2 separate regions of the Homo sapiens genome follow, and region 1 is linked to region 2. Evidence: fine-mapped expression QTL. A gene starts in region 2. The other region holds a variant in brackets. All regions are shown on one strand. Distances are from middle to middle.

The links. PIP is the estimated chance that this variant, and not a neighbour inherited with it, causes the effect. A credible set is the group of variants that fine-mapping cannot tell apart.
Region 1: its variant is the best candidate, but not a certain one, in a credible set for the expression of GPR33 in whole blood (TOPMed, PIP 0.53).

The regions. Positions count from the first base shown.
Region 1 is chr14:31,547,472-31,550,273 of GRCh38, reverse strand. All of the region lies in intron 2 of LOC105370438 (a long non-coding RNA gene), which reads right to left. Among named protein-coding and RNA genes, the nearest start is that of NUBPL-DT, 12 kb to the left of the region's middle. The variant T/A (reference allele first, on the strand shown) is at 1,711.
Region 2 is chr14:31,486,389-31,489,190 of GRCh38, reverse strand. It overlaps GPR33 (G protein-coupled receptor 33), which reads left to right and starts at 1,152. Exons shown (of 2, transcript NM_001197184.3): 1 at 1,152-1,294.

The sequences.
Region 1 (2,802 bases), 61 kb before region 2:
ACAGCTCACAATTTTTGAGGGTGAGGCAGGTGGATCACTTGAGCCCAGGAGTTTGAGACCAGCCTGGGCAACATGGCAAAATCCCCTCTACTGAAATACAAAAAATTAGCCAGCCATGGTGGTGTGCACCTGTAGTCCCAGCTACTCAGGAGGTTGAGGTGGGAAGATCATCTGAGTCCAGGAAGTTGAGGCTACAGTGAGCCAAGATTGCACCCCTGTATGCCAGCCTGGGCAATGGAAGTGAGACCGTCAAAAAAAAAAAAGAGGGAGAAGAAGGAGAAGGAGGAGGAGGAAGAGGAGGAGCAGGAGGAGGAAGAGAAGGAGGAGAAGGAGGAGAGGAAGAGAGGAAGAAGGAGAAGGAGAAAGAGAAGAAGTTGATATGGTTTGGATTTGTGTATCCACCCAAATCTCACGTTGAGTTGTAATACCCAATGTTGGAGGTGGGGCCTGATGGGAGGTGATTGGATCATGCAGGCAGATTTCCTCCTTTGGTGCTGTTCTACTGATAGAGTTCTTATGAAATCTGGTTTTTTAAAAGTGTGTGGCAACTCCCCCATCTCAGTCTTCCTCCTGCTTTGGCCATGTGAAGATGTGTCTACTTCCCCTTCACATTCTACAATGACCACTTTCCACAATGATTGTAAGTTTCCTGAGGCCTCCCCAGCCACACTTCCTATATAGCCTGCAGAACCATGAGCCAATTAAACCTCTTTTCTTTATAAATTACCCAGTCTCAGATATTTCTTTATAGCAGTGTGAGAATGGACTAATACAGATCTCTAAAATGAAAACTGTAAAACACTAATGAAAAAAATAAAGGAAAAAGATACTCCATGTTCATGGATTGGAAAAATCAATATTGTTAAAATGTCCATAATACCCAAAGCAATCTACAGATTCAATGCAAACCCTATCAAAATACCAATAACATTCTTCACAGAAATAGAAAAAACAATCCTAAAATTTATATGGAACCACAAAGGAACCAGAATAGCCAAAGCAATCATAAGCAAAAAGAACAAAGCTAGAGGCATCAAATTATATTACAAAGCCACCTGACTTCAAATCATACTACAAAGCTATAGTAACCAAAACAACATGGTACTGGCATAAAAACAGACACATACACCAATGGAACAGAATAGAGAACCCAGAAATAAATTCATGCATTTACAGTCAACACATTTTCAATAAAGGGACCAAGAACATACATTAGGAAAAGAACAGTCTCTTCAATAAATGGTGCTGGGGAAACTAGATGTCCATGTGAGAAAGAATGAAACTAGACCCCTATCTCTCACCATACACAAAAGTCAAATCAAAATAAAAACCTAAATCTAAGAGCTGAAACTTGAAACTACTAGAAGAAAACATTGAGGAGATGCTCCAGGACATTGGTTCAGGCAAAGATTTCTTGAGTAAGAACTCAAAAGTATAGGCAAACAAAGCAAAAGTGGGCAAATGAGATCATATCAAGCTAAAAAGCTTCTACACAGCTAAGGAAACAAAGTGAAGAGACCACTCACAGAATGGGAGAAAATATTTGAAAACTACCCATCTGACAAGGGATTAATAACCAGAATACATAAGAAGCTCAAACACCTCAAAAGCAGAAAAAAAAAAGTCTGATTTTTAAGTGAGAAAAAGATCTGAATAGACATTTCTCAAAAGAAGATGTACAAATAAATATATACAGATATTCAGGTTTTT[T/A]AAAAATGTTCAACATCACTAATTATCAGATCAAATCAAAGCCGTAATGAGATATCATCTCACCCCAGTTAAAATGGCTTTTGTCAAAAAGACAGGCAATAACAGATGCTGGTGAAGATGTGGAGAAAGGGGAACCCTTCTACACTGTTGGTGGGAATATAAATTAGTACAGCCACTATGGAAAATATGGAACTTCTTCAAAAAACTAAAACTGGCCAAGTGCGGTGGCTCACACCTGTAATCCCAGCACTTTGGGAGGCCGAGGCAGGCAGATCACAAGGTTAGGAGTTCAAGACCAGCCTGGGCAAAATGGTGAAACCCCGTCTCTACTAAAAATACAAAAATTAGCTGGGCGTGGTGGCAGGTGCCTGTAGTCCCAGCTACTTGGGAGGCTGAGGCAGGAGACTCACCTGAACCCGGGAGGCGGAGGTTATAGTGAGCCAAGTTCACGCCACTGAACTCCAGCCTGGGCAACAGAGGGAGACTCCGTCTCAAAAAAAAAAACAAAACAATAAAAAACTAGAAACACCATTTGATCCAGCAATTCCACTGCTGGGTATATAACCAGAAAGAGAGTCAACATATCAAAGAGATATCTGCACTCTCATGTTTATTGCAGCAGTATTCACAATAGCCAAAATATGGAATCAACTTAAGTGTCCATCCATCAACAGATGAATGGATAAAGAAAATGTGGTATATATACACAATAGGATATAATTCAGCCATAAAAAAGAATGAAATCTTGTCACTTGCAACGACATGAATAGAACTGGAGGATATTACGTTAAGTGAAATAAGCCAGGCATAGAAAGACAAATATCATGTGTTCTCACGCATATGTGAAAAACTTGATCTCATGAAGATAGAGAATACATTGATGGTTATCAGAGGCTGGGAAAGGCAGTGTGGAAGGGCGATAAATATGAGCTGGTTAATAGGTACAAAAATCAGTTAGATAGAAGGAATAAGCTCTAGTGTTCAGTAGCAACATAGGGTGACTACAGTTAATAATAATTCATTGTATATTTAAAAATAAATAGAAGAGTGGGATTGGAATCTTCCTAACCCCAAAAAAAAAAAAAAAATAAA
Region 2 (2,802 bases):
AAAATTCTAAGTCTAACAAAGACTGGGTAATGGTTTTGATTCCTAAACTCTTGACCACCAACGCTGCACAGTGGTTTTGATGTATTTTCTCCACTGGTAATGAAGAGATGAAGAGGAAAGCAGGCAGGAAAAAAATCAGGACACTGAGGTCAGCACAGAAGGGGATCCAAAAAAAATTTCAGAGATAGATTAGAGAGAAGAACATAGGAAATGTAGAACTCAGTCAGTAATGGTTCATAAATGCATTACCTGTGTTGGAAGATTCCTTATAATGAGATCATCTTCTAGGATGTAGTAACCAATTCTGTTTTTTTCCAACCGTTCTACAACCATCATACAAATGCAGATTGTTCTGCCTGTCAGTCTTCATCAACCCAAACTGAATAATATAAATCTCTGGCCTGTCCTCATAAATTCCATTTTAATGTGAAACTCAGTATTTAAGTTTTTCCTTCTAACTATTTTCTGTCCAGAAAGATTAGATAGCTCATTTCCAGAGTTTATTTTGGTCTCTGCCTGATATTTACCACCTCCTTATGTACCCAACACCATCCATCCATCTGCTAATAAACACCCTAGAGTTGAGGCAGAGTGGGTGCCTGGCGGGATGACCCAATACGAGAAGGGAATTAACACCCGAAACAAGTTTATTAACCTTTTAAATGAAATGACTTAGCTTATGCAATTCATTCTCTCTCTCTCTCTCTCTTTTGAGAGGCAGGGTCTCACTCTGTTGCCCAGGCTGGAGTGTGGTGGCTATTCACCACCATGATCATAGCACACTGCAGCCTCGAACTCCCGGGCTCAAGTGATCCTCCTGCCTCAGCCTCTCCTCCTGAGTAGCTAGTGCTACAGGTGTGCCAGGTGTGCACCACCAGGCCCGGCTATTTTTTTTTTTTATTTTGGTCTCTAACTCCTGGCTTCAAGTTGTCCTCCTGCCTCGGCCTCAGAAAGCACTGGGACTACAGGTGTGAGCCACTGCACTTGGTCACTTACAGATTTTTTTTAATGCCCCTCAAAATGGAGAAATAATTTGAAGAAGTACTCATTTCTCTATACCTCTATAGCAGTAAATTCCACAGAAAAAAAGGAACCAAAAAGAGGAAAAGACCTCACTGAGTATTTAAATAATAGCAAGTTCAAGCTTGGGGAGTAGCATCAGCAAGAAGAAAGACATATGAAATGAAGGCAAAGTGTCACTGATTTTGTTCACTCTGTTCCTAGTGAGAAATTGATGGTGTAGAGTCACTTTGGCCTGCTCAAGACCAATCTGGCATGAAGATACAGGTCTGAGGTAAGATTCTCTGGACTAGTAGGTTTATCCTAGAGCTATCATCCGAATTGACCCTCTAGGCTTATTGCACATTAGCTTCCCGATGCTCCTGTGGCCTTCCCCTGCGCCAGCAGCTCAGTGTTCCCAAGTGGAGGTGGGGTCTTCCTGAAAGCCGCCTGTGGCTGGGCACGGTGGCTCATGCCTGTAATCCCAGCACTTTGGGAGGCTGAGGCGGGCAGATCACAAGGTCAGGAGTTCAAGACCAGCCTGGCCAATATGGTGAAACCCCATCTCTACTAAAAATACAAAATTTAACCAGGCATGGTGGCAGGTGCCTGTAGTCCCAGCTACTGAGGAGGCTGAGGCAGGAGAATCACTTGAACCCAGGAGGCGGAGGTTGCAGTGAGCCAGGATCACGCCATTGCACTCCAGCCTGGGGGACAGAGCAAGACTCCATCTGAAAAAAAAAAAAAAAAAAAAAAAAACTGAGGGGCTTAGCAGGAGAAAAAGTCTCAACAAGTTATCTGAACTTGCAGAGCTGGTAAGTGGTAGAGGTAGGATACAAACCCAGGTCTGTGGGATGCCAGAGTCTGAGATCTGCCCCATTTATTTATTCTCAAGTACTTTAACATCATTTTAAAGGTGTTTAAGGATGAAGAAATCTCCTGGTTATGTGCAATAAATCAGAATTCCTAGGAAACTTTATATGATATTCAGAATCACTACCAACATTGATCAGAAAAGTTTTACTATGATTTTGCCCATGTTCTACATTACTTTCAGATGTCCTTCTAGAGCTCAGATGCACAATTAAAAAAAAATCTTTCCCATAATTCGGGTATCTAGTTTCTCATATGCACACACATAAAGAGACCACACGCATACAACACAAACACACAAACACTACACATACACACATTCCACAGAAAAACATACAAAGACCACAGACACATACATACACAGAGATCACACAAATACACTGAGATACACATACACTGATCACAGACACACCTCTACACATACTCCATGGATAAAAACACCACAGAGACTTTGATTCCCCAGAACCACCACCAACACAAGACAGCTGAGGGTTAATGGGGAAAAGGGACACTATACCATATCAAAGCATAGCAAATAGATTATAATTATTAGACATTCCTATTTTTAAATCCCCTGTGTCATTTCTGCTTCTCAGAATACTTCATTGACCCTTTCTCCTCTGTAGGGCTCCTAACATCCTGCTGAGTTTTTTTCTGTGCTGCCTGTCTTAAAATCATCCTCGTCTTCCACCCTCTTCTTAAGGTCCCAGGGCCTTCACAAAACCTCTCTCTCAAGTTCTCATTCTTTTATTTGCCATTGCCTGTCCATTTCATATGCTTCAGACTCCACTTTTTATTCCCAAAGAAGACTACTAAGGTATTTTCATGAAGAATCATTTTTCTACTTTAGAGAAAAATTTTGCAACTCCCTTAGAAGGCAGAATTAACTTAGGAAGTTGTGATTTTTGAATAGCAATTATGGCTGGGCAC